Linked DNA regions of Homo sapiens: regions 2, 3, 4, 5, 6 and 7 are each linked to region 1. The links come from fine-mapping of genetic effects on gene expression. A gene starts in region 1. Each other region holds a variant in brackets. All regions are shown on one strand. Distances are between the middles of the regions. Region 1 holds the start of LRRFIP1 (LRR binding FLII interacting protein 1). Region 2 overlaps LRRFIP1 (LRR binding FLII interacting protein 1). Region 3 overlaps LRRFIP1 (LRR binding FLII interacting protein 1). Region 4 overlaps LRRFIP1 (LRR binding FLII interacting protein 1). Region 5 overlaps LRRFIP1 (LRR binding FLII interacting protein 1). Region 6 overlaps LRRFIP1 (LRR binding FLII interacting protein 1). Region 7 overlaps LRRFIP1 (LRR binding FLII interacting protein 1).

The links. PIP is the estimated chance that this variant, and not a neighbour inherited with it, causes the effect.
Region 2: its variant is fine-mapped to the expression of LRRFIP1 in whole blood (INTERVAL, PIP above 0.99).
Region 3: its variant is fine-mapped to the expression of LRRFIP1 in whole blood (TOPMed, PIP above 0.99).
Region 4: its variant is fine-mapped to the expression of LRRFIP1 in whole blood (INTERVAL, PIP above 0.99).
Region 5: its variant is fine-mapped to the expression of LRRFIP1 in whole blood (TOPMed, PIP 0.98).
Region 6: its variant is fine-mapped to the expression of LRRFIP1 in whole blood (TOPMed, PIP above 0.99).
Region 7: its variant is fine-mapped to the expression of LRRFIP1 in whole blood (TOPMed, PIP above 0.99).

The regions. Positions count from the first base shown.
Region 1 is chr2:237,625,960-237,630,026 of GRCh38, reverse strand. LRRFIP1 (LRR binding FLII interacting protein 1) reads right to left here and starts at 2,440. Exons shown (of 24, transcript NM_001137550.2): 1 at 2,287-2,440. The coding sequence starts at 2,382.
Region 2 is chr2:237,681,454-237,685,520 of GRCh38, reverse strand. The region is part of intron 1 of LRRFIP1 (LRR binding FLII interacting protein 1); the gene reads right to left. Among named protein-coding and RNA genes, the nearest start is that of LRRFIP1, 56 kb to the right of the region's middle. The variant C/A (reference allele first, on the strand shown) is at 1,930.
Region 3 is chr2:237,654,482-237,658,548 of GRCh38, reverse strand. All of the region lies in intron 1 of LRRFIP1 (LRR binding FLII interacting protein 1), which reads right to left. Among named protein-coding and RNA genes, the nearest start is that of LRRFIP1, 29 kb to the right of the region's middle. The variant T/C (reference allele first, on the strand shown) is at 1,679.
Region 4 is chr2:237,762,791-237,766,857 of GRCh38, reverse strand. All of the region lies in intron 19 of LRRFIP1 (LRR binding FLII interacting protein 1), which reads right to left. Among named protein-coding and RNA genes, the nearest start is that of RBM44, 34 kb to the left of the region's middle. The variant GTGTT/T (reference allele first, on the strand shown) is at 1,576.
Region 5 is chr2:237,692,288-237,696,352 of GRCh38, reverse strand. The region is part of intron 1 of LRRFIP1 (LRR binding FLII interacting protein 1); the gene reads right to left. Among named protein-coding and RNA genes, the nearest start is that of LRRFIP1, 67 kb to the right of the region's middle. RefSeq lists an enhancer at 1,592-1,771 and a silencer at 3,835-4,065. The variant T/C (reference allele first, on the strand shown) is at 1,822.
Region 6 is chr2:237,772,979-237,777,045 of GRCh38, reverse strand. LRRFIP1 (LRR binding FLII interacting protein 1) reads right to left here. Exons shown (of 24, transcript NM_001137550.2): 23 at 2,584-2,688. Among named protein-coding and RNA genes, the nearest start is that of RBM44, 24 kb to the left of the region's middle. The variant T/C (reference allele first, on the strand shown) is at 2,319.
Region 7 is chr2:237,673,430-237,677,496 of GRCh38, reverse strand. The region is part of intron 1 of LRRFIP1 (LRR binding FLII interacting protein 1); the gene reads right to left. Among named protein-coding and RNA genes, the nearest start is that of LRRFIP1, 48 kb to the right of the region's middle. RefSeq lists enhancers at 2,181-2,320, 1,877-2,423, 2,377-2,671, 3,792-4,067. The variant C/A (reference allele first, on the strand shown) is at 2,258.

The sequences.
Region 1 (4,067 bases):
AGCCAGGGGAGGTTTCTTCTTCTCCATTTTAGAGACGAGAAAACAGAGGCCCAGAGAAGAGTGAGTAACTCACCTTCCTAGGATGGCACAGCTGGCTAAGAACTATGTCATTTGAAAGCCCAGCTCTGACTCACAAGTCTATCTCTGTAACTCCAACTGCATCTCCCTCGGTGGGAGGGAGGACCTCAGGGCTCTCAACCCAAGGAGTGTTCCCTTGCCTTCCTTTTCAATCTATTTTATAAAAACCAGCAGATAGGCTGGGCGCAGTGGCTTACGCCTGTAATCCCAGCACTTTGAGAGGCCAAGGCGGGAAGATCACTTGAGGCCAGGAGTTTGAGACCAGCCTGGCCAACACGGTGAAACCCCGTCTCTATTAAAAATACAAAAATTAGCCGGGTGTGGTGGTGCGTGCCTGTAATCCCAGCTACTGGTGAGGCTGAGGCAGGAGGATCTCTTGAGCCTGGGAGGTGGAGGTTGCAGTGAGCCGAGATCATACCACTGTACTCCAGCCTGGGCAACAGAGTGAGACTGTGTTAAAAAAAAAAAAAAAAAAAAAAAAGAAGAAAGAAACACCAGTGGATAAAAGGCAAACTCTGGAAATTTTCATTCTTCTCATTCTTCTGCCCCATAACCACTGACATCAAGACAAGGCTTGCGATTCACTGGCCACCTCTGGCCCTTGCAGGGAACACTTGTAAGGCACTGTGGTCAAATGCATACATAAGTGACTGTCTTCACAGGAGGGAGTTATACTCAAGCTACTATATTTAGCAAATGTCTATATTTAGCCAAAGGTCCTTTAAATGCCTTGTACTTCTTTTGTTTATTAATTAATGTAACAGACATAGACAAACACCTAGTATGTGCCTGGCTCTGTGCTGAGCTCTTGGGATACAAAAGTAAGATATTTCCTGTCTGGGTGTCACCTTCTACAGGTGGACAAATAATGATAAGGTATCCTGACTGCCATGCCAGGCGCGGGCATGCCATGGAGGGCCGTGGAGCCAGGGAGACTTAGGCCTGGTGCGATGTGAGAGGGCTGAGTCTGGAAGGTCTCCTGGAGGTCACAGTGGGCTTCCAGGAATGAATAAGGGTTTGCCTGGAAAGCCCTTTTCTGTATCATACAGAGAAAAACAGAAGTCTTTATTCACTCAGTAGTCAACAAATACTGAGTGACTGCCACATGTCCGTAAGAGCAAAATCAGGTATTTACAACTACAAACACCTAAGGATTGGTTACAGAGTAGATCCCCCAGAATATCTGACGGATACAGCCAGACACCACAGTCCAAATGGCTTGGAGGTGTTTCCTGTGGGAAGAATCACATGTGGAAAAGCCAACACGGAAAAGAACCTGTAAGGCGGGTTACAAGGCAGAGACTTTCTTTGCATTCATACACCCACCTGGCACACAGTTCAAATGGTACAAAGGGAACACAGTCAAAAATTAAGCTTCCTTTGTCCCCCTGGGGCCGCAACCTATTGGCTCCCCTTTTCCCAAGCTGCTGCTCTCTGTCCCTGTACGGCTTTCTGGATGTCATGTACATTCTTTAGCCTTAAGGTAGAATCCTTGCGGAAGGAAAAAAAAAAAGGCATTTGTACAAATACCCATTCTAGTGCGCCTTCAATTTGTCACAGGTAAAGTTCATCACCAAACATGATCTTAGTTACAATAAACTCTGTCCAGGAAACTTTAATGAAGACGTTTCAGTGTGCCTGGACCCGTTTCCAGGCTCAGTCCTGAAAGAAAAATCACAGTGATCCCCAAGTTCATCTCTGAGCTGCACCTTGAGTGACATCGATGGATGGATGACAAATGGTCACCTGAGCGACTCGGCCATTTCAGCAGGGCCATGTGGCCTCCGGCGACCGTCCACTGCCTCCAGGTCGGGCCTAAGCCCCCGCCTCCTCCCATGCCGCACAACAAAGCGGGGCGCTCGCCCCCACCCGGCCAGCCCGGGCCACCTCGCGCGCTGGCGGCGCCCGGCTCCTCTCCCGAGGGCGCAGCGGCCGACGGTGGCCGGGGTGGGGGAGGGCGCGCAGCGTCGCGGGCTGGGCCCGGGGCTGGAGAACGGGTGCGGGGTCCGCAGGCCTCGGAGATCGGGGCCGGGGCGCAGCGCCTGGGGATCAGCGCCCCGGCGCGCGCCTGCCCGGCCCACCCGCCTGGAGCCGGACGCGCAGTGGCACAGACGCACAGCGGGACAGACGGACGCCGGAGAGACCCTGACAGCCGTCCGGCCCCCGCGCCCGCCCGGCGCCCCCCGGCTGCCCTCCCGGAGCGCTCACCTCCCGCGCGATCTGGTTGAGCGCGTCGTCCTCCGCCGTGAGCCGCTCCCGGTTGGGGAGCCGCTTGCGCCCCGATCCCTGGGTGCCCATGTCCATCGACCGCGTCGCCCGCAGCTGCCGCGGGGCCCGTTGCTCCAGCCGCTCGCGCCGCCCCGGCCCGGCCCCGGCCCCGGCCCCTCCCTCCGCCGCGGCGTCATGGCGTCAGCGGGCGCTGGGCCGGGGACGCGGGGACGCGGGGGGACGGGGGCCGCGGGGACCCGGGGGAAGCCAGAGCCGGAGGTCCGCAGCGCGGGCCAGGGACTGCAGGGGCCAGGGACGGCGGGGCGGGGGACGGGGGCGGGGGGCGGAGACGCCAGGTGTCAGGGACGATGGGGGTCCGATACCACGGGGACGCTGCGGATGCCCAGGGCCGGGCACGCGGGACCTGAGGGACCGGGAGCCCCGGAGGGTGGACTTTGCGGGGACTGTTTGGCGGGCCGGTAATCGCGGAGCGACGCGCGCCAGGGCGGTGGGCACCGGTTGAGTGGGGACCTGAGCGGAGAGCGGGGGGGTAGGAAGGCTTTCAGAGGCCTGAGTTGCCTTGAGGGGTTTGCACGGAGGGGTGAGCACAGGATTTGGTTCAGCCTGGCGCTCCCCATTCCGCGGTGAGTCGGGGTGGAAGTCCCTCGCCGGGGTGAGAGCTAGGCTCTGGGGTCAGGCCGAGAGGTGCTCGGATCCGCCCGCCACCGCCGCTCCTGTGACCTTGGCCAGCCTCCTGGGCGCCGGCTTCACAGCGGCATGGTGTGGATGTGTGCGTTTCTGTCTTTACACGCGTGTTCTCCGTGCTAGCATCCATCCTTCTCCCCGCTGTCTGCCCCCTGAGATCAAGGACTTGTCACTTCTCTGGTGGGTCCCCAGCCTCTAGGATCGGGGCAGGTGCGTCGCAGCTCTCTCCTAGTTGTTGAAAAAGTAATGAACTTACCTGTGCTCTCTGAAGCTCACAGTCTATGCTCCAGAGGTGGATTTAAAAGTAAAGCAAATCGGAGGATTAGGTAGGGGTTAAAAGCCCCTGCCTAGGGCACGGCAGGAGCACCGGGTGGGAAAGTTACTGGTGTGTTTGGGGTATGGGGAGAACTTCAGTGTGGCTGGACCTGGGGAAGGATGGGAGGGAGGGTAGTGATGGTAGAGGAGAGGAGGCTGTACTGAAGTCACCTGTGATTTTTTTCCCCCAGTGATAAGGACAGTTAACATTTCGGTGTATTTCCCACCAAGTGGTGTGACCAGATTGCTTTGGATTCTTAAGGAGGTGGCCTGGAAGCTGTATGAAGGTGGGAAGAGGAAGAGGGCCCTTCCACCCACAGTGGCAGGGAAAGCTGTTGGAGGTTTCATTGCAGGGAAAAGACAGCGAGTCCAGTGACATGGGAGGGAGGGCAGATCCAGGTGACATTGCTCTGGGTGCCTGAGCTGACGCAGGTGGGTTGGCAGGGCTGACTGTGGCATTGTTCATGACTGAACTCCGGGAGCAGAAACTGCACCTGCACATTGTAGGCACTAAGGAAATAGGTGTTGACTGAATCTTCCAGGCCATATTTACATTACTTCAGAGGCCATACTCCTTAAGTGACATAGTCCTCCTTGGGGGAAACCTTGAGCCGTGGCCACTTGCACTGCCTTGGTCTTGCTGGTGGCTGCTCACTGTTTCCCAGCCCCTGGGGCACTGTGGGGACTGTGCGTCTTTGCCGAGGCTGGTCCCCATGAGTTCACTCATTCCTGCACCCACACCTGCTGCCTGCCAGCTGCTG
Region 2 (4,067 bases), 55 kb before region 1:
AGGGAGGATAAGGAGCAGGAGGACCCAATATTGAAGGACCTGCCTCAGAGCTGTATGTGTCCCAGTCAAGGTGCACTGTACCTGAGCTCAGAGCCCTTCCATGGCGTTACATTACACCATTAAATGTTGTTTTGTGATACACTCTGAGGCATACTTAAAATAATTTCTAATGTATTTTACTCTGGAATTAAACTCATCTCAAAAAGTGTCTAGGAATAAGTCTATAGCAATCCTAAATGTATCCGCTTTCCCAGTGTGTTCCACAGAATTGATGCTTTTTAAGTCCATACCAGAGTGACCACAGTAACCTCCTCTATACACAGTAGCCAAGGAAATGGCCACAAACACCTCCAGTAAAGCATCTCTAAGAAAACCACTTCTGATTTTTGGGGTTTTTTTGTGTGGGGGGGGGAGGGTAGGGAGACAAGGTCTCACACTGTTGAGTGTCAGGTTGGAGTGCAATGGCACAATCTTGGCTCACTACATACAACCTTGGCTCACTGCAACCTTGTCTCAAGCTATCCTCCCAACTCAGCCTCCCAAGTAGCTAGGCCTGCAGGTGTGCACCACCACGCCTGGCTAATTTTTTTTTTTTTTTCAGAGACAGGGTTTCAGCATGTTGCCCAGGGTGATCTTGAACTCCTGGGCTCAAGCAATCCACTAACCTTGGCCTCCCAAAGTGTTGGAATTACAGGTCTGAGCCACCGCACCAGGCCCAATTTTGTTTTTCATGAAGACAATGCACTGCAAATATCTACCAATTACCTTCTAAAAACACGACAGCTAAAATCCATTATGTATTTCTCAGTCTTACAGGCACAAACTCTGAAAAGTCCTCCTAAGGCAGCTCTCCTGTGAAGAAAAAAAAAATCTATACATGCTCTCAGAATAGTTCATTTAAAATGTTCAGAATAGATGCTGACATGGGGAAATAAGCTTCATCCTCAACAACTGCATTCACCAGCTAACAGTATACCCCACTGAGAAGAAATAAATCAAATGCTTCAATATATACTTAGGAATAGAAAATGGCAATTTGTTTTTTTTGAGATAGTCTTGCTCTGTAGCCTAGGCTGGTGTGCAGTGGTGTGATCTCGGCTCACTGCAGCCTCCGCCTCCTGGGTTCAAGTGATTCTCCTGCTTCAGCCTCCCAAGTAGCTGGGACTACAGGTGTGTGCCACCACACCCAACTACTTTTTTTTTGTATTTTTAATAGAGATGGGGTTTCACCATGTTGGCCAGGCTGGTCTTGAATTCCTGGCCTCGAGAGATCTACCCGCCTCGGCCTCCCAAAGTGCTGGGATTACAGGTGTGAGCCACTATACTTGGCCAAAAAAAAAAAAAAAATGGCAATTTTAGTACAAAATAAAAGCAATGTATTTTTTCCAGAGATTCCCTCATTTATGTGGCTTTGCCTCAGTAATCCTGCCTATGAGTTTAACATTCTAGAAAAGAGAATATTCCTGACAGTCAGAGCCATGAAATAAATCTTTACGCTACTAGCTGAAAACTTCAGAATCCACCACGCTACAAATGTCATTGATAAATGTCATTCACAAAAAAAAGAAGTGTGGGGAGAATAGGACTCCATAATCTGAATTTAAACAGTACCCATAGCATACAGAGAAGTTTAAGGTACTCAAGATGTATTCGAAGGCTTAAAAGTAAAGCACTGCCACTAAGCAACTTGGCTTCCAGGCTCCCTGACTGAAGGGCAGACATGAACATCAGGAACGGTGAGCATCCTTCCAGCTGAAGGTACAGAAATCCTAAAACAGCATCCCCAAAATGATCTTTCCAAGAAAATGAATTTCCATAAAGGAAAATAAAGGCTAAAACACACTTCGGCATAACACTAAAAACATAGACCCACACTCTAATAGAAGGGTTTGCCCTTTTGCACTTTGGCCCTTGAGAGATAGCTCAAAG[C/A]AAAGTCATCAACTATTCGAGTACAAAAAATGTTCTCCATGTGTACAAATTGGATATCTTTAGAGAAGACTTGGACATAGAACATACAAGCCTCACCTTTGAAGAATGAAGATCTTAGATGAACTTCAGGGGGAGTGTGAGGAACGCCAGAGAGCAGCCATTTGGAGAGACATGCTTGGCACGAGAGTGGAAATTCTGGAATAACTGGAGATCAAATAGCCACTCCTGACCACGTCACCTTTATACCCTGTACCTCACTGGGCAGCTGCCTTGGCATGATGAGAGGGCGTGGTCCCCTAAACGCACTGGAGGCTTTCCAAATGCTTCTCTGACCTGACCGTCGGCTTGATTTTAGTTGCTGAGATTCCACTGAAGCCCTCGCCCCTTGTCTCCACCCCGTTGGTGGCATCTGTATCAAATGTGCTGTCGGGCTTTTTGGGAAACCCTAGGATTGATAAAGAGCAGGGTCCCCTGACGTTTGGGGTTGCACAGTTCCTTGTCGTGGGCGGCTGTCCTGTGCATTGCAGGATGGCTAGCCGCGTTCCTGGCTCCACCCACCAGATGCTGGCAGCGCTCTCCACCCCAGCTGTTACAACCAAAAATATCTCAGACATTGCCAAGTGGCCCTGGATCTAGAGGGGCCTGTACCTGCATCCGAGGTGCCCACACTGTGGAAGCACATTCATGTCTCAGCTTATACAGCTGGATGGGGCCCCAACAGTTCCACAGCAAAGCATGCACAGAAAGAATGGTCAAGATGGGAATATGTGCACACGGCATCTAACATCTGTTGCCTTCTTCTTTCATCCAGTGAGAACTTGAAGGCAGGGCTGCTTGTCAGGGACGGCAAGAAAGTCAGCGCCAGGAGCATTGAAAGACAGGAGGTGCAGGTCACTGGGTGGGAAGTGGGGAGTTGAGATTTCAGATGTGGTGTGGTCACACCAAGGGATGTAATCCTGGAAGTTGGCTGGAAGAAAGAACAGCTGAAGTGAGAAGATCAAAGAACTGGGTTTTGCTTCTCGGCACCTCTGGGAAGGCCCAATCCAAGAGTAAGCCGATGGGAGAGAAAACAACCCTGCACCCCTACACAGAGAATGCAAGTGACCTGTGCAGAAGGCCTCAAAGCTCCAAAGCAGAGGTTTAGCAGATAATCAGGCTCGAGCTCCTGTTCTGCCATTCACTAGCCTGTAATTTCAAGGAAATCCCCTGACCTCTTCCAGCTTCCTACGTAAAGCAGGGAGAGAGACAGCCAGCAGACAGGACTGCCCGGAGGACTGCAAGTAACAGGGGACCTGAGCCTGGCATGAACAAGTACTTTGTTCCGTTGCACTGGCAAAAGATTCCGTCTGGCAGCTCATTCCATCTGCTATTTGACCATACACAGATTATTTTTTTCCCGCAAAACAAGGGGCTCTAGAATTACAATTTACATCCAGGTTAGAGAAGTTGCGGGAAGGTCTAGCATCACTCAGTTAGCTTGGACTAGGTTTAAAACTTCATCAGTGCTTTTGGCACACTCAGGGAGCTTCTGCCGTCTTTCAGGCAGCTGTCCGTCTTCGAGCCCAGCACTGTGTTGTTGCTTTACTGCTATTCCCAAAGCCAAGCTTGTGGAGTTCTTAGTCCTCAGATGAACACAATTAAGAATAGGACTTTGGGAGGCCGAGGCGGGCGGATCACGAGGTCAGGAGATCGAGACCATCCCAGCTAAAACGGTGAAACCCCGTCTCTACTAAAAATACAAAAAATTAGCCGGGCGTAGTGGCGGGCGCCTGTAGTCCCAGCTACTTGGGAGGCTGAGGCAGGAGAATGGCGTGAACCCGGGAGGCGGAGCTTGCAGTGAGCCGAGATCCCGCCACTGCACTCCAGCCTGGGCGACAGAGCGAGACTCCGTCTCAAAAAAAAAAAAAAAAAAAGAATAGGACTGCGGCCGGGCACGGTGGCTCACACCTGTAATCCCAGTACTTTGGGAGGCTGAGGCAGGCAGATCACCTGCGGTCACTAGTTCAAGATCAGCCTGGCCAATGTGGTGAAACCCCGTCTCTACTAAAAATGCAAAAATTAGACAGGCATGGTAGCATGGGCCTGTAATGCCAGCTACTCAGGAGGCAGAGGTGGGAGAATCGCTTGAACCCAGGAGG
Region 3 (4,067 bases), 29 kb before region 1:
CTTGGGCAGTTCTTTACAGTAGTATGAAAACAGATTAATGCACAGCCCCCTACTAATCTTTTTGAAAAAATTTCTTGGTTATTATTGCTTGTTAATTTTTCCATACAAGTTTTAGAACCAGGCTATCTGGTACCAAAAGAAATTCTATTAATATTTTTATTGGGACCTGCATTATGTAGATAAACTTGGTGAGGTTTGATATTTTTATAGTGTTAAGTCATCTTATCCAAGAACATGGTATGCCATTTCTGCTGTTGAAAGTTTTGGTTTCTCAGTAGTGTTTTAAAGATTTCTTTATATAAATTGCACTCATGCCAACCTTATTCCTTGGTATTTTATATATTTTATAGCTATTGATATGAAGCCTTTTCTTCCATTCTGTCTTCTAACTGGTTATTGCATGAATATATGGAGGCTATTGATTTCTGGGCAGTAGCTTATACCCAGCTGCCTTCCTAAATCCTTGTACTGTTTGTCACAGTTTTTTAGGTGGTTCTCCTTGGTTTTAGGATTTCCATGCTTGTCTTAGTCCCACAGTTAAATAACGCTCATTGCCAGTTCTCTTGTGTACTTCTTTCACTTATCTCTTGGTTGCACTCGTTCTGAACCTTGGGGTTTAAAAAAGTATTGATAATTCAGTGCTATCACCGAGCTTCTAATTTAATTCATATGGGCTGTGGCTTGAGCCTACAGGTTCATAAAGGATCTCAGTGATTCCATGGAACAATGTCAGGTGGAAGACATTGTCTTCAATAGTTTATTCAAGAAGGAATTATGGGGACGATATTCCTGAATCCTTGCATTTTTTAAAAATGGAATTTCATTTTTTTACATATCCTTCTAGGGAATTATATGCCTATATAAACAAATATATTTTTCTCCTCTTTTATTTTTGAATGACAGTTTGAAGCGTGAACAATTCTGTCACGCTTTCTTTCCTTAAGGCTTTGTAGACATTGCCATAACTTTCTTCTAATAGTGAATGTTGCCACGGAGAAATTGAGGCCAGGTTGGATATTTTCCCATTTGATCTTGATTTGTTGTTGTTGTTGTTGTTTTTTGCCTGTCTTCTCAAGAACCTCTTTATCATGGCCATCTGAAAACACGATTAGACTGTTTCAGTAGTGACTGTACTATCTCTATGTTTTCTGGGGCATGGTGGAGATTCGACTCTTCTTTATGGAATGCCTTATTAATTCATATGTGAAAATATTCATTGTTCCATTTATTTAGGTTTTCCTCTTAGAATACTCCAATTTTACATATGTTGCCTTTGCCTGTCTACTCACTGTTAAATTATTTTCCTCTCTTTATTTCTGTTTCATTTTGCTCCTGTTTCCCATTTCTGTCTTCGCTCCCCTGCCTGGCTGGTACGTGCATCCTCACACTTGACCTGTTTCTGTGATTCTTCATCCAACCTCAGCTCCACTGTAACTGAAACCAAAATGGTGCAAGGATGCCCCCTACCACCGCCAGCCTTTTCCCACCACTGCAAACAAGGGTTTGGGGGCTCTTCTTCAGAAAATGCCCCTTCATGGGTAAGTTTACTTTGATGAAGATGAAAATCTTAGAATAGTGGTTTTCTATCATGAATTATGTTATCTTCGTAACATTGTAAAATTCCACAGAATGTCACATTATATTAGTGAACTTCCATTGACATATAAATTCAGTAATG[T/C]TTTTAGGAGCAGTTGCATTTTATTAATCACAAATAGTACTTACAAATGTTTAAAAAGTAAAAATACATACTGACACAAGGCACATTTAATTTTTGTCTAGTTCTCTGAAGTAAAATGCATGCTCTTCTGATTATATTTTTTGCCTCTTTAAATTTACTTTTGTTTATATTGTACAATGAATTAACTTCTATTGTGGTAGTTAATGTGTAATTTATGAATAATCATACGTGAGTCACATGGATATTCCATAAAATATTTGGTGCTCTGTCCTAGACAATGCTCAGTGTGCACGCAGGAATACCAGGCACCATGTTCTTGAGAGAGCTCAGGGCCACAGCCAAGAACCACTGCTTGGAAATTGAGACAAAATCCTACCTATACAGTTGCTCAGTAAATACTAGTTAACTTACCTTCCTCAGCAAGTATTTAGATAGACATGATAAACCATATATTTCACAAATTGGGCAGAAACAAATGCATACATATGATTTGGATATATTGAAAATACTCAAATATCTTTAAACTCATGCCCTACCCCTGCCCAGTATAATAGCTTTTGACATTTTCTTTAATTTTTCTCAGTGTAATCCTGAATTGCATAAAGACAAGATTACAATCCCAAATAACCAAAGAGAAATTCTATACATAGCACTGATTTGCCTAGACAATCTTGGTTTTGTTTTATTTAGTTTTTTAAATACATATATGCATTGCCACCTTACATATAGATAGATAGATGTATCTATATATTTACGTTACATATGTAATTCCTATCAGGAGACACCCCTTACCTTTTATTCCCCAATTATAGTTTCCAGAAGTTAAGGTCAAAATCAAAATGAAACAAAATGAAAATAACCCCAATGAAAAGACTGACAGTTGATTCAGTGAATAAATCTCAAACTGGGAACCAATAACTCACATTTCAAAAGATAAGAGTAAACTGGAAAGCGATGTCCACCCTGTTTGTGGAATTGTGAGTCTTTTTCATTAGCAGCCTAGTAAGAAATAAAGCAGTATTTCTCTTGTTTTGTCTTTAATTATCTCCATTGAGGGTTAACAGCGTTGGGCTTTGCCCTTTTTGTTCATGTGGTTGGGTTTCAGTCAACACTGGCCTGTCGTGTTGTTTTCTACAGAGAATACAGAGAACTGGTTTTGGTTATATCATATTAGGGAGTTAAAAAGATGTCCTATATATATCCAATCACAAAACGAGCACCCAAATCAGCTTTAGTGGATTCAGGAGATGTAGTCAATCTTCCCCACATGCTTTCTAACTCACTTCAAATATGACAGATTTGTAGCTAACTTTCACAGCAACAGGAAGTTCACTTAGCACTCAGCGATGTGAGATTTGAGAGTCATCTATATTGGCACTGTAAATTCCATTTCTTAGAAAAATTACAAATGTCAATCCTTCTTTTATAAATGCAAATTCTTTCCATTAGAAGATGAGTGACGGCTGGGTGCAGTGGCTCATGTCTGTAATCCCAGCACTTTGGGAGGCTGAGGTGGGCAGATCATTTGAGGTCAGGAATTTGAGACCAGCCTGGCAAACACGGTGAAACCCAACTTTACAAAAAATACAAAAATTAGCTGGGCATGGTGATGCATGCCTGTAGTCCCAGCTACTCGGGAGGCTGAGGCAGGAGAATGGTGGGAACCTGGGAGGCGAAGCTTACAGTGAGCCTAGATCCCGCCACTGCACTCCAGCCTGGGCGACAGAGCGAGACTCCGTCTCAAAAAAAAAAAAAAAAAAAAAAAAAAGAAGTGAGATCACGTGGTATTCGTCTTTCTGTGCCTGGTTTATTTGACATATCATAGTGTCTTCCAGATTCCTCCATGCTGTTGAAAATGACAGGATCTCCTTCATGTTGAAGGCTGAAGAGTACTCCATTGTGTCTCGATACCACATTTTCTTTATCTATTCATCTGTTGTTAGACACTTAGGTTGATTCCATATCTTGGTTATTGTGAATAGTGCTGCAGGGAATGTGGGAGTGTAGATATATTTTCAACAGGCCGGGAGTGGTGGCTCACGCCTGTAATCCCAGCACTTTGGGAGGCCAAGGCAGGGGATCACTGGAGGTCAGGAGTTCGAAACCAGCCTGGCCAACATGGTGAAAACCCATCTCTACTAAAAATACAAAAAGTAGCCAGGCGTGCTGGCAGGTGCCTGTAATCCCAGCTACTCGGGAGGCTGAGGCAGGAGAATCACTTGAACCCGTGAGGCGGAGGTTGCAGTGAGCAGAGATTGCGCCATTGCACTCCAGCCTGAGTGACAGAGTGAGATTCTGTCTCAAAAAAAAAAAAAAGGAATATTTTCAACATACTGATTTCATATCCTTTGGAGACATACCCAGAAGTGGGATCACTGTATCATATAGT
Region 4 (4,067 bases), 140 kb before region 1:
ACAGTAATATCAATTACTGTGCTTGGCTATAAAGTCATTACACTGGAGAGCATATAACTGATGCTCAGAATGAAGGCTCTGAAATCATCGAGAAATGGTTTGGCTGCTCAGAACTCTTTCTTTTTCCTTCTTTCTTGCTCATGGATTTTCAGCTGTCCATTCCCTACTGGAGGGCTGGGTCCAACTGCTTGTTCACTGGCACAGTGCCTTCCATGTACAAAGTGATCAAACCTGTCTATTAATTAAGCAAATGAGTGGTGAATCACTGAGACGGCTGGATGGCTGAGCTGAGGGATGTGATGTGTGCCCAACGTCCTGCAGGGTGCTGGTGAATAACATGAGAAAGAACTTAAAATGGCTTGATGATCTCACCATTTAGTGACCTTGGTTGTCACACTGCTTTCCAAGAGCCCTTTAAAGGTAGGAATGAGAGCTGTTTCCAGTATGCATTCCAATAGGAATGCAGCTTTGCTAAAGTTAGAGACATAAACTAAAACCCTGTGAAGTCCTATAGAGCCCTTGGACTTATTTCCTAGCAAGCATTTATCATCCCCACCATCCTCTACTTCAGGACACTTGAGCAGAAACAGTCAAGGTTTTTGCCGTTTTCATCCTGCTCTTCAAAACACTGTAAGTAGTGGCGCAGGTAAGCACAGCCACAGGTGAAGACCGTTTTCAGCTGAGGCTGCACATCAGAACCACAGATCACAGGGGATGGTGCGTGACAATCGTCTCAGTTCTCCCAGTAATGCCCATGCTAGCCCCAGGCTCGATGCCAGGAGGGAAGTGCATTCCTTACTGAGGGAGGGCATCAGGCGTGGGTCTTCCACGGAACCCCAATAGGAATCAGCAACCCCCAAGCAGATATTACTCAAAGGTGGTATTACATACAACAGTAGTCAGACTCAGACTTCAAGCAGCCCAAAGAGTGGAACCACAGGCTTGCACAATTATAAAATGTTTTTATTTCAATTACATAATAACACGTTTTCCTCAAATTTTATTGAGGTTTTGGTCTTTTTGCATTCAATTCTATCTTGTAACAGTAATATGAATCCACATAATTTCATAAAATGTCAACAACATTCATAAGGTACATTCCTTTGTGATTTTATATTTTACAATTTTAAATCTAACTTTACAATTATTTTAAAAAATTTTTTTATATAGAAAACAGATATTTTCTTCAGGCAGATCAAAACAAGAATTTTCCAGTAAGAATATACTGGGACATAACAAATGAAAATATTTATACCAAAATACCAAAAGTGATTCAGCTCTTTAAAATATCCTACTATAGTCTAATTAGTAGCTTGTACAAGAACAAGTAACCATTTTTTACTGCTCTTTTGAATGATGATTAGAAATTCAAACAAAGTATTTTAAGGTTCAAAAACTTTTTTTTTTTTTTTTTTTTTTTTTAGAGACAGTGTCTCACTCTGTCTCCCAGGCTAGAGTACAGTGTGCAATCATAGCTCACTGCAGCCTTGAACTCCTGGCCTCAAGCAATCCTCCCACCTTGGCTTCCCAATGTGCTAGGTTTACAGGCGTGAAAACATTGTGTTGTGTGTGTGT[GTGTT/T]TTTTTTTTTTTTTTTAGACAGAGTTTCGCTCTTGTTGTCCAGGCTGGAGTACAATGGCTTGATCTTGGCTCACTGCAATCTCTGCCTCGCAGGTTCAAGCGATTCTCCTGCCTCAGCCTCTGGAGTGGCTGGGATTACAGGCGCCCACCATCACGCCCGGCCAATTTTTTGTATTTTTAGTAGAGACAGGGTTTCACCATGTTGGCCAGGCTGGCCTCGAACTCTTGACCTCAGGTGATCCACCTGCCTTGGCCTCCCAATGTACTGAGATTACAGGCATGAGCCACCACGCCCGGCCAAAAACATTTAAAAAATGACTGTCCCTGCTCAAATACTGCAGTAGGAAATGTAATTTGACATATATCACTTCCAGAAAAAAACTTTAAATCTTTCTATAAAATGAATTTGATACATCATCAGCATGAAGTGAAGTTAAAATCTCTTACAAAGTAAATTCAGGTATATCAACAATGAGATCCAAAAGTATCGGTTCAAGATCAAAGACTCATATGAGGTAAAGGCAAATAAAGCCCCTCATGCTTTCAGACATTTACTTGTTATCCTTAAAATGATTATTGTTCTAAGGTGCAAATCTTATCATTCAGTGACCTATTTGCTATTTGGCTGTTTATCTCCTTTAAATAAAATACCATACAGGTTATAATGTACATTTTAAAATCAAATATGAAAGTACACATATGTGAACAAGACATTAATTTAAATATCAATTATATTCATAATACAGAAGTCTAAGAATGCTATTTGGTCATTTCAATTAGATGCTGATATATTTGGTCAAGAAAACCCACATTCCTATCAGCCTAAGGCAAATAGTAAATGCCTCTATTTTTATTAAGTGGACTATAAACAGTAGACATTATTGTTTGATACTACTGGAATGCTCTCAATTAGAACGTACACTGATAACAAATATGTCTTTCTAATCTGGGTGATAACCTCAATGATTACATGGAAATCTACAAGTAACAGTCTATAACTTAAAGCAGTAGAGCACCTGGTAATTGTCATACAGTGCCTCTCTATGAATTTAGAACATTCTACTTACATTGGCAGTGGAGAGAAAAGACCCCTTCACACTGAGACTTCCTGTGCACCGCGCCTGCCGCCTGCCTCAGCTTAGGACATGGTACAGTCTTCTTTGCTTTTGCCCTTCTCATTCCCTCCTCTGGTATCTTCTCTGCTTTCTGGATTGAAGTGCCCTGGCTCTCTTCCTGGTGCCGACAAGTCATCGTTCTCTAGGCTATTGCTGTCTAAAGCTTTCCTGACGGTCTGACTTGGATGTTCTGACATCTCACACCTCTCTGTACTTTCTGCTTCACAGGCATCACTAATGTCCTGTGAGGGACTTTCATGTTCGGGCAGGGTGCAGCGATCTGCGTCTTCGCTCTTTGGTTCTGCAGGACTGCTTTGAGTGGCACCATCTATTTTAGCATTATCTTTTGCAACACCTTCATCTAATTCTTCACCACCAGCCCTCGGGCCTGATGATTGAACGGTGTCATCCTCAAAATCTAATGTGTCTCCATCAGCTAGTACCTCCTCAGCTGCTGTTTGTACATCATCACCTTCTTGGTCAAGTTTTCCATCCAACTTAATTTTAGGATTCTCCGGACAATCAACATTTTCACTGCTTTCTGCTGCAATTTTCTGTTTTGGATTTTCAGTCACCTCGTTTTGGGCTTCCACTGCTGACTTTCTGTCAGTAGACTTTACCTGCTCTTCTTCCTTAATTTCACTTAAATCTGTGTTCTGATACGTTAACTCTTTTTTAACATCTTTAAGGGTTTCTACGGGTACTGGGGATTTTTTCTTCTTGTTTTTCTTTTTCTTGTTCTTTGTCTTCTTCTGCGATGAGTCCAATGCCTCTCCCTGTTGGTCACTCTTTTCTTCATCGGGCTCTTTCATATCTAAGGGTTCATTTTGAGTGTCTACTGTACTTGGACCTGTCGCTTCCTGACAGTTGCCCTCAGTTCCTGCTGGAGAACCAGGAACTTCTGTCTTGATTGGTTTCTCGTCCCTTAATCCTGTTTCTTCACCCTCTTCTTCGTTGTGATCCCTACCTACTTCTGTACTGTGCGCTGGAACCTCCTTGGGCTCAGCTGCTTCCTGGTTGGTGAATTCTTTCTCTAAACTATGCCCTGTGCTTGTCTCTAACTCTTGGGGGACCTCTACCATACATTTGTCATCATGATAAACTGTGTCATCACTATGCCCTAAAGGACACGAGGCCACTGTGCCTGCCTGCTCTTCAACCTGAGTCACTGCTGCCTCTCCCACATTCTCTGTGTGGTTCCCACCATCTAAGTCACTCCAACAGTTGGATGGCTCAAGGGGAGTTCTGGTCCTGTCATCTGGTGCACCCATGACCTCATTTGACTCAACCTGTACTGTGTTTTCAGGGAGAGAACTGCTCTCAAGAATTTGGCTTTGAACCTGTTCCTCATAGGTAGCACCTGCTAAGGTTCC
Region 5 (4,065 bases), 66 kb before region 1:
GAGGGGGACAGAGGTTCTCAACCCACAGGGAAAGCCCACTCCTTTCCCTAGGAAAATCACACAGCCACGTGCCACATACAGTAAAAAAGACAGAAGGATCACAGGTGGCGTTGCTTTGATCATCTTCATTACACAAATAAATGAAACATTTTGGTTAAAATTAAGAGTAAATCTTCATTATAGTGATTTAAGATAAATTACTTCTCTACTACAAAGTAGTTATACTTTAGATTCAAGGGAAAACTACTTACCTAGTTTTAAAGTTGTAAAGTTACAATCCCAAGGAGAAACCACTGGAAACACTGGCCCTTTCCAAAATGAATGAATGAGTCTCGGAATACATATAATTTCTGTTGCCAGGTGTGTGTGTGTTTTGGTTTATTGTTTTGGAATCTGGCCTGGGGCAGGGGGATTATACTACTGGTCTATAATCAAATACATGGCAATTTTGAATGATTAAATCTTGCATGTAGTCAAAATATTTAATTTGGGAGAAAGAAACGAATTTACTTAATTTTATCTAGGTAGTCTGAATAATAAAAGTTCTAGTAAGTCCATTCCATGAAAACAAGCTTCTTTATTTAAAAAAAAAAAACAAAAAACAAATTTGGGCGGCCTCCAGTAATAACAGTGAGGTAATAAAAATCCTCTTCTCCTGTCCCATGTCTAACACGTAGTGAGATGTAATGGACTTACTGATTGGTGAAGAGGTTGGTAATCTAAACATTATGGCCTCTGGGGCTTCAAGATCACTCCTTTAAATACGAGCAGATATTCTGGAAGCACTGGCATATGAGTAACCAGTCATAAACAATTCCTTTGCTGAGTCACACAGCCTGATTTTTCGGGGATAAGAAGTTCCTCTTGGACATTGCCTTTTGAGGACCAAACATGCTGCACCAACATTTAGTCTCACAATTCTGTAGGGATTGGATAAGAATCTCACTATAATCAGGTAACTCTCCAATCAACTTCGCTGAAACACCGTTCTGCAACTATAAATAACTTGATTTCCTGTGCTCAGCATAAGTGGCAGTTGAGACTGCAGGGTTTTTTGAAATTTGCTAAGGAGGCTTCCGCTGTGGGATATTAACTCAGGCTGAACAGAAACTGACTCTTAAAGAAAAAGGGAAATTTAGTCTCCATCTTTGCCCCAGTAGGACACTCTCAATACTACTAGAAAAGACCTACCTTACTATATTTATGTCTTACCTGCCCGGGGAAATGACATGCCTAAAACACACACCATATGATTCCACGCTCCACCATCTCAGACTGAGCTAGAGCAGGGCCAGCCCGCCTCGTGCCAACTGATTCATCCCCATATTGGTCAAGACTCCACTCTCCCACACCTGGGGACCCTGGCCCAGGTACCTATAATGAGATGGGACTTGGGAGACTGTGTGTCCACGCTCTCCCCTAACAGCCCTTTCTTGGGACAGTGCTGGTCATTTAGAAGGGCTGAATGCTAATCAGTATGTGGAAAGAGAGCGGGGTGACACAAGCCATCGCAAACACAGGGAAGTTACAAAAGCTGCAGAAATGCACAGTGTCTCCACTGTCCGCATCGGACCCTCTCCTACAGCTCCAGGGCTGGTGCCCACTTGCTGAAGAAGCCCAGGCTCCCACTCAGATCCTGCTTTTGTCTTCTAGTTGAGGTGGAGCTTGCCAAATCTACTTCCTCTGACCAACCCGGCTCTCCTCTGCATGGGTGCGGCCCCCAGTCCCTCCTTTCCGCAGGAGACCCATCCCTGAACCCACGGACACAATGCAGAGCAAGAACTGGCACAAACCAGTGTGAAACACCCACAACCACTTTCC[T/C]GTGCCTATACCCAGCCCATGGCCCAGGGCAGCCGCTGGGTGACGCCCTACCCCCCACCCATGATGACCCCCAATTCCCATCACCACTCAGCACATTTCCTTCCCTACCTGAACATTAGCCTCTTAACAGGAACTGCATTTTGCTTTTGTTCACCATGTCTCACTCTGATACAGTTTTTGCTACCATTTACCAAGAAAAGCTCCTACAGGTTCACAACTTCTCTCTGAAAACCCTTGGGGCCATGATTCAGAATTCAGCATTTTTGGACATTAGAAACGTAGTAAGATGCATACACCATATATTCTGGTACAACCCAGAGTAGCAGCCCTTAATCAAAGACATCAACAAGACTGCAGAGAAACGTAAGAAAATTCACACTCAGAGGGATCAGTGAAGACCAAAACTAGCCCCCCATTGGACAGGGCAAGTCTCACTGCCAAAATTCTGCCACAAACTTATAAAAACAAAACAAAACACAAACCTTCCGGTCTTCAAAGCTTATTGGGTTCTGGAACTGGGGGTGAGGGACAGTGGGCCTGGGCTGATCACATAACTACTCAGTTGGACACAGTCCAGACTTTCCTCTCCCTTCCTCCCGGCAGCATCTCGAAGTCATCTGAACCCAGACCCGCCCAGGAGGCTCCCAGCCTTAAGTAATAGACCCTGTAGCCAGTGCCTTAGCTGCTCCAGGTGTGCCTCTACCTACTCCTCTGATTAGCCTGTCCCTAGTTTCCTCACATCCTGTTCTCAATGTTTACTCTTCCCTTCTCCAAGGACTCTAAGTCCAGCAGGCAGCTCTTCACCTCCATCCTCCTCCTGCCATCTATGGTGTCCCAGGCTGCTCCTCAGAACACTGGCACCGCTCAACCACATTCCCACCCTTCCTTCTTTCAAGAACCCTTCCCTGATGGTGATTCAAGGGTCTCTCTTCCCAGGCCCCTAGGAACTAATTAGTTGAAGGGGTAAAAACCGGCTCCAGAGGGCTGGCCCACTGCCAGAGTTTTAAACGAAGTCACAGAAAAACCACACTAAAATGGACATTTAAAAAACAGCAACCATCTGACAAGCAAAGAACTGGCTTTTCAGTATGAGTTCATCAGACTCTACTTCTACACCTCTCTCTGGCATTTCCTAATAAGCTCTCCCAAGGTCAAGGCAGTCTGATTCATCTTAAATCTTACACACACACCCAGTAGATGATTAATTTCTACCTGATGAAAGAGTGATTGTTTGGGGCTCATACTTTTACCAAGATCCCACGAACACCTGATTAAGTGGAAAGCTAGGGTTTTATATTTCTTTTCCAAAGTGCACCCTTTCACTTTTATTCCCATTCATGTTCAACCACAAGCTGCATGAAAATGTGTATTTGCAAACCCTCTCCGCCTCATCCCCTGCCCAATTTTAATGCCAAACTACAGCCGTAGCCCCACGACTGCATATTGAGCTGGACAACGGCAAAATCCTAGAGGCAGGATCCTGTCCGCGCTGGGCGGACCCGGGAGACTAGCCAAAGTGGATTTGGCGTCTGGAGTCCTCGGCGGAGGTGGTCCCCAGGTGCTGAGCGGGTTGAGTGCTCCAAAGCACCCCAGCCGCTCCCCGGTGGTTCCAACAGCGGGTGAGGGCACCGGCTCTGGCCACCCGGTCCTTGATGCTGTATTTTGTAAAATAGCAAACTAGCAGCTCCCTGTGACTCCAGGCCAGGCGCAGACCTGGTCAGAGCCTGTCTGCAGCCCATCACCTCGGGCGGGGAGAGACCATGTGCCTTTTCGTCCTTGGAGGTGGCGTCCCACAATAAAGCGTGCTTCCTAGCGCATGAGGGACGCCGCTCGCCGGGCCACTCACGGACCCGCGCCCACTGCGCCCGCTCCCACCGCGCTGGGGTCCCGCCAGAGCCCACCCCACGCCTCCCGGGCACCTGCGCCTGCCATTGACCTCGGAACGAGCTGGAAGCCCCTGAAACCCCGCCGCAGTCACGAAAGAAAGTTTCGGAAGCGCTTTCCTCTTACCAGCTTCTGCGCTTCCGGGCTCAAACAGTCGATCTCCCGGCTTTGAGCGGCCGCGGGGCTGGTCATCCTGCCGGGCTCGGCCCGCTCCACCCGGCGGGAAATGCTCGGGGACCGCGCCGGGAGCCCCTCGCGGGCCGGGCCAGGGGGCGCGCGCTCTGTCCGCGGAGACGGAGCCACTCGCCGCTAAGTGAACGCTCGCGCTTCCGGGGCCAGGAGCCAGCCCGCCGGGGAGCG
Region 6 (4,067 bases), 150 kb before region 1:
TTTTTTTTTAAGTTAAATAAAAATACCCCATGTGTGATCACTGAAAAGAATAGAAATTGAATATAAAATTTAAATTTGGCAAGAGAAAAATGACACACAAAAGACAGAACAAATGGTTATCCACAGTCAGATGGTGAAAACGAGTCCAAATATACCAATAACAATGGACTAAGGGCTCTATTAAGATCCACAGATTCCAGATTCAACTAAGAGCCACCGCCACCTAGCTATGTGCATCTGAAGGAGATCATCTAACGCATAACAACACACGGAAGACTGGAAGCCAAGGGATGCAAAAATCAGAAGTGGACAAACACTAACCAAAAGAAAGCTGATGCGGCCACGTGAATACCCGACAAGGTCAACAGCAGCAGGGACCAAAAGGGTCACTACAAAGTGATAAAAGGTTTAACTCATCAAGAAGATATCAGAATTTTAAACATCTAGTATCAATAGCCTCAACATATATAGGAGAAATAGGGAGAATGAGATAAATCCACCATCATCTTTTGGAAGAGCTTGACAAATCTCTATCAGCTACTGAGAATTTAAGCAGACAAAAGAAATCAGATCTGAATGCACACTTCACAAGTTTGATCAGTGGAAGTATACAGAATTTTGCATCCATAAATCAGAGACTACACATTCTTCTTAACCACATTGGAGACATTTACAAAAGTGAATCATGTATCAGGCCATTAAGCAAGTATTGACAAATTTCAAAGACCAGGTATAACAGGGACCATGTTCTCTGACCATAGCAAAAGTAGGCTAGAAGGTTAAATGGGCCAGGCATGGTGGCTCATGCCTGTAATCCCAGCACTTTGGGAGGCCAAGGCAGGAGGATCACCTGAGGTCAGGAGTTCAAGACCAGCCTGGCCAACATGGAGAAACCCCGTCTCTACAAAAACACAAAAATTAGCCAGGCATGATGGTGGGTGCCTGTATTTCCGGCTACTCGAGAGGCTGAGGTGGGAGGCTTGAACCTGGGAGGTGGAGGTTGCAGTGAGCCGAGATGGCGCCATTGCACTCCAGCCTGGGCAAGAGTCAGACTCCGTCTCAAAAAAATAAATAAATAAAATAAAATCAAATAAAATAAATAAATAAATAAAATAAAGAGGAGAGAAATGGCATCTTTGGTTTCTCCTCCACAGTCCCTTTCCTACAGTTTAAATATAAAATGAGTGATTCTTTCCTTTTTTTTAATGAAAAACGGTCTCACTCTGTCGCCCCATGCTGGAGTGCAGTGGCACGCTCATGTGTCAAAGCAGCTTTCACCTCCCAGGCTCAAGCAATCCTCCTGCCTCAGCCTCCCAAGTAGCTGAGACTACAGGCACGGGCCACCGCACCCGGCTAATTAGTTTTTTTGCACTTTATGTAAAGACAGGTTTTCACTATGTTGCCCACACTGGTCTTGAACTCCTGAGCTCAAGCGATTTGCTCACCTTGGCCTCCCAAAGTGCTGGGATTATAGGCGTGAGCCACCGCGCCCGGCCCGAGTGATCCTATTGAAACATAAATCAACATAAGCCACTCCTTTGCTCAAAACCCTGCAGTAGCTCCCACTTTATGCACAGGAGGATCCCAAGTCCTGTCCATGGCCTCCAGGGCCCTGCCTCACGGGCTGAGGTGCTCTCACTGCTCCCTCCACCCCCTCACCCCCTGCTCACTTGGCCTCCACCGCTCTGACTGTTCCTTGACAAAGGCAGTGCCTTGCCCCGAGCTCCCCTGCACGTGCTGATCCTTTGCGCGGAAGGCTTTCTCCCAGTTCTGCCTGGCTCACTCCCTGGGCTGTTCAGGCCTGTCCTTATATGCCACAAGAAGGAAAGTCTTCCTTGGCCACCTACCTAGAACTGCCCTGGCCTGGGCCATTCCGCACCCCAGCCCCTCTCCTGCCTGTGGTCACTTTTATGGACCTCCCTCTTCCAGAGCACAGGCTCTATGGAGGCGGAGACTCCTGTCTGTAAGGTCACAGCTGCATCTCCAGCACCTGAACCCGTGCCCGGCATGCAACGGGTGCTGTAAATATTTGTTGAACAAACAACTTTGCCAAGTGTCTTCAGTAAGGTAAAGTATGTGTTTTAATTGGCAAGCATGGTAATTTGGGAGTGTGACCAGCAGGTGGAGTAACAGCAGCTCGGCTTCTCAAGGGCACTCTCCATAGGGTGACCTGAGACAGCTGTGGCCTGGCCCTGGTGCCACACCCAGCTCTTGGCCACAGCAGGCCCATGGGCTCCTGGTCCTCCACCTGGGCTCATTCTGCATGACACAAAAAATATTCGGAGCATAAGAGGCCTGGCTACTCCTTTATCTCATTC[T/C]CTTGACGTTTACGGACAAGACCTATAGGAGATGCTCAAAACTGACAGATGAACTAGTTGATGCCAGCAAGGGTCTAGCCCTAAGCCCTAACTGGCTGCGCCATGCCTTCCTTTATTAAGACACCGGCACTGCAGAGTGGTGTGGGATGATCTGACAATGACCAGCCCAGGGGCAGATGTCACAGTAGTAAATCCTCTCTGTACCGTCCCCACTAGAGAAATACTGGCAGCCATTCTCTTCCTAGAAATTGCCTAGGAAATTTACCTCTCTTTGGAGTTTCCGTTTTTCTGCCTTAAGTTCATCTTCTATTTTTTCTGCATTTTCAGCCGCTGATTTGTAACGTGATACTTGACTCTCTAACCTTATTACCTAAAAGGTAGAAAAAAAACCATATGTATAAATTGATAAGCCTGTTTTCTTTCTTCAGTTTCTTTACTTTGAGATCAAAGAGTGTGATTTAATAAAATGGGAGAATACACCATGTAAATACTTATAACATTTTGGACTATGGTGTGGGTTTGAGCCAAGCAAGCTATTCTTGGTTACTATTTCTGGGCGACCCTGTGCTGACATGATGGGGACCCATTTCCTCTGACCCCGTCCACCAGGGTGGTTTCTGCAGTGCTGGCACCTTGCTGCCTGCTTCTTCTCCCGCTGCGTGGGGCTGTTCTGTTGGAACAGGCAGAATGGTGCTGGTAAGGGACGTGTTCCGCCACGACCTCAGCTCCAGTCTAATCTCTCCTGGGGTGGCGGGGGTGGGAGGAGGAAAGGACAGGGCGAGGAGTGAAAGGAGGCGGCTTCGGCATGGCATTCCCCAGCCAAGGTTCTGAGATGAAAGACGGCAGCAGCGAAGGCCTGCTGGACACCTTCACTCTGCCGCAATCAAAAGCACACATCGTCTCTACCTGTGCTGTTCTCATTTTTGTTTCTATAAACATTCTAAAAAGTTCCAGCCAAGTACACCCACAATGGAGGGGGAAACAGTCCTGTTTTTTTTCTCTCTTTCTGGCTAGAACACAAATTGCCCTAGGGCCCAGGGTGCTAGAGGCAGGAGTGCCCCATGTCTAGACACCAGGGAGGGCGGGCCTCGCTGCAAGAGAAAGGCTAAAAGCCCAGGCAAGAGGGACGTCCCAGTATGATGTGTTTTTTTAATTAGCTACATTATTTATTTATTTATTTTATTTTATTTTTGAGACAGAGTCTCGCTGTTGCCCAGGCTGGAGTGCAGTGGCGTGATCTCGGCTCACTGCAACCTCTGCCACCCTGGTTCAAGCGATTCTCCTGCTTCAGCCTCCTGAGTAGCTGAGATTACAGGCGCCTGCCACCATGCCCGGCTAATTTTTGTATTTTTAGTAGAGACGGGGTTTCACTATGTTGGCCAGGCTGGTCTCGAACTCTCGACCTTCAGTGATCCACCCATCTCAGCCTCCCAAAGTGCTGGGATTACAGGTGTGAGCCACTGCGCTCGGCCAATTAACTAAATTAATTTTAAAGAACAAAATTTTAAAACACTCCCAAGCCACATTAGCTATTTTCTACAACTAACTGTTGTTGATAAAGGATTAGTATCTACTGTAACAACTTAAATTCTAAGAATTCTTTCCTTCCTGCTTGCTCTGTAAGAAACGGATGGAAAGACTTGCTGTCTTAACTTATCCCTCTTAGGACATTTCTTGGTTCTAAAAATCTCGGCTTTTTCTGGTCCTCAGCCTTTCAGGGCTATTTCTAGCAAGTAAAACTCCAGTCAA
Region 7 (4,067 bases), 47 kb before region 1:
TATTAAATGGACAAAATAATTTGGTCTTTTGTAGGTAGAAGCAACCCAAGTGTCCACTGATGGCTGAATGGAGAAACACAATGTAGTATAGATACATAGTGGAATTTAACTCAGAATTAAAAAGGAAGGAAATGCTGTCATCTGCTAAAATGTGAGAAAACCTTGAGGACATCATGCTAAGTGAAATCAGCTAGTCACAAAAGGACAAATGCTGTATGATTCCAACTAGATGAGGTACCTCATACTATTCATCAAGACAAAGTAGAATGATGGGTGCCAGGGCTGGATGGAGAAGAGAATGGGGAGTCAGCGTTTAATGGGGGCAGAGTTTCAGTTCTGCAAGATGAAGAAGTTCTGGGGATGGCTGGTGGTGCTGGCTGCACAAGAGGGTGAGTATACTTGATGTCACTGAAATGTACACTTAAAAATAGTTAAGATGGCAAACTTTGTTATGTGTATTTTAGCACAATTTAAAACTAACGTTTAAGAAAACAATTTACCCTTTTGTTTATGTAATCACAAAAGGAGGAAGACGAAAGCCAGCGCAGAGTTTCCCCAGAAAACAGGAGCCAGATGGTGCGAATCCAACAGACTCCACGTGAAATCAGCCACACCAAAGGTCAGGAGATCTGTGTGGAGAGAAACTTTCAGAGAAGGCAACCAGGGCACATCTCTGTTTTAAAACCATCTCCTGGGCCGGGCACTGTGGCTCACGCCTGTAATCCCAGCACTTTGGGAGGCTGAGATGGGCAGATCACTTGAGGCCAGGAGTTTGAGACCAGCCTGGCCAACAGGGTGAAACCCAATCTCTACTAAAAATACAAAAATTAGCCAGGTATGTTGCCCATCTATAATTCCAGCTACTCAGGAGGCTGAGGCACGGGAATCCCTTGAACCGGAGAGGCGGAGGTTGCAATGAGCCGAGATCGTGTCACTGAACTCCAGCCTGTGTGACAGAGCGAGTCTCTGTCTCAAAAAACAAAACGAAACAAAACCCACAAAAATAAAACCATCTCCCTACCATGAGCCCTCCACATTTGCAATTCATGAAAATGGAAAGCTGTCATGTCCCCACGTGAATTTTCGGGTCTCACTAGAAAGATAACCATCAGGACCGGCAACATGGGATTCAACAACAGTTTCTGGTCTAATTTTTTAAAAAGGACGAAAGAAGGCAGGCTGGTGTCATGCAATACTGCTTGCATTAAAGTATGTACATTTAAACTATGTACCTTGAACTTTTATTGGAAAAGCGAAGCTCAGTAGTAAAAATTTACGTTAATCAAATTCATGGAGACAGAAAGTTGCATGGGAGTTGCCAAGGGCTGGGGAAAGCAATGCCCACTCCACCTTCAGCTCTGTGAATTTGGGGAGTCAGTGTTTAATGTGTACAGAATTTCAGTTTGGGAAGATGAAAAAGTTTTGGAAGTGGATGATGGTGATGGCTACACACTAGCGCACTTAAAACCACTGAACTTTACACCTAAAAATGGTTAAAATGGTAAATCTTAGAAATATTTTATCACAATAAAATTATGGTCAAAGTTTTACATTATAAGAAAAGGGCCAGGTCAACCTACTGCTTTACAGCATCCTGTCCAGCTATAAAAATAGTGTTTAAGACAAGTATGAAGTAGAATTGGAAATGCTTATGACAAAGATTATGACAATTATATCTCTGCAAAAATAAACAACACCTAAGGCCCTAAGGAAATACATCAAAATGGAGCCATGGGTGTTTTTATGTCACAAGGAAGATAGAGATATTTTTTTCTTTACTTTTCTTTTCCAGTGTTCTTTTTTCTTCCATGAGCAGGTACTACTTTTAAAGGGGGAAAATAACAAAGTTCATTTCCTTCCATAACTTCATTCGAAAAGAAAGGGAGGAAGAACAGAAAGAAAACCCTTTATGTTTTGTGTTCCTAGAGGCATTTAAACCCAGCCCAGGAAACGGCAATTAATCAGGCTGGCAACTGCTCTCAGCTCTCTGTTTTTTGGTATAGTGGATCCCCCTGGCAGGCTGGTGAAGCCTGTGGAGCATTCTTGGAATAATATTTTTAAACGCATGTAACGAAACATAGGGTTACGAAGGAAACTGATTATTCTGAAACACATTGTCAAAAAATATTTTTAAATCCTGATATAGTGTATCAATCAGAGCCAAGTCAGGAGAAAAAGAAATTACAGCAGTGATTTCAATAGAAGCAATACAGGCAGCCCCTAAACAGGTGTTGCTTGGCCGAAAAAGCAAAGGAGG[C/A]CTCATACCACAGAGGCGTCATCTCAGGAACAGCTAGGGCTGGAGACAAAGACCGGGGTGATGGTCCCAGAAGGCTTGGAGTGGGGACCCGGACCTCAGAGCGGGGGCTCAGGAGGGACTGGTGAGGGTGGTGTCTGGGCGTGTGAAAAACACTAGAAACAGAACCAACAACTGCAGCCAGGGTGAAATCCCGTTGCTGGGGTGACGCTCACAGAAACAGGAAGCAGGCAGGAAGCAGCGTGCTCCGGGCTCCCTCCTCCCACTGCCCAGGCTCTCTCTGGGGGCAGGGCCCGATAGGGCACAGCTCTGGCCCTGCAGCAAGGAAGGGAGGGTTTGCAGTGGAGAGGCAACAGTTCAACAGCCAGCACGTGCGTGCACGTCCTTATTCCACCAAATACTGACAGTGATGCATGAAACCATTTCCCCAGCTCTCAGCAACAACCCGAAAGTGACGGAGAAATACCTGTGGTTTCTATTGGTGCTGAGGTCACACTTCTAATACTACCGAAGGTTTTTGCCCGCATTCATAATGGAAGGTAATGCTACCCTTTTATTCCTATTCAGTTTCGGGGATCTCTGGAAATCTATCCAAAGGCCCCTGGGGGAATTCTTGGACCCAAGGTTAAGAATCCCTCTGGGCCTTTCAAGGTGTCAAATGCAGTTCTTTTGTCTTCCTTAATTTTTGCTTTTGAAAGTCACATAATTGACCATTGATACCAGGGTTTTAAAACAGGTTTTTAAAGCAAAAATAATAAGAGGACAAACACATGCCATTCTGCACAGCTCTCATTTAACTAACACTGATGGCCACTCCTGCAGATAGCAAACAGTCACTTTTGCAGTGTATCACATTTTGCCTATTTCTGAATGCCACAGAAAAGAAGGAAAATGCACAACTGCCCTTGCGTCCTTGCCCCTGCTCATCTGCGGGCGCAGGCTAGGATTCTGGGGGGCTGCAGAGCTCTTTCCTGTAATACCCCACCACCCACTTTGACCACGACCTAGATGTTGATGGGCACCCAGTTCATATTTCCAATCCTGACTCCTCCAAGCCTCAGCCCCTGCCGTCTGGACACCTCTTCCTGGAAGCCCCAAAGGCACCTCAAATGTGACAGATCCAAAGCAGAATTCCTGCTGCCCCCTGAGTCCCTTCCCTGCATTTCCTTCCCGCGGGGGCAGCAGCAGTGCCTCCTAGCAGGCTTCACTTGAAGTCCCTGTGCCCAGACTCATGTGTAAAGGAGAGACAATAATAGTGACAACTTCATAGGGGTGGTTGTTGTGAGGATGAAACGAGACAATAGACAGTGTTTGTAGACGCGCTCTGCACAGAGCCTTAGTGTCAGGAAACGCCCACCACTCACTGCCAGCTGCTGGCGCTCCTGAGACAGCCTCCGCCCACCTCTCCGCCCGTCATCGAGTCAGCTTCCTCTCTTAATGCCACTCCGTGCCCTCCCACAGCTGCTGTCTTAGAGCAGGCCTCAGCATGTCTCCTCAGAATGATCTGAATTGTCCCCAAACGGTACCCTCCCCGCCACTGCTGCCAATGTGACTTCCTTCATTCACACATTGATTCATTCCATCCACAAACACGGACCCAGGGCCTCCGCCGTGCCAGATACCACGCCAGCTACAGACAGAACGACCGACCGGGGGCAGCCGCACTTTCTGGGGAGGACTGATGTCAGACAACCGCACACCCAGCGAGGGTAACTGTGAGGAACCACCCCACGCCACGCCCCACGCCACGCGCGGCACTGGATGTACAGACAGGAAACCCAGAGGGAAGTGCAGAGGTGCAGGGAGAAGGTGA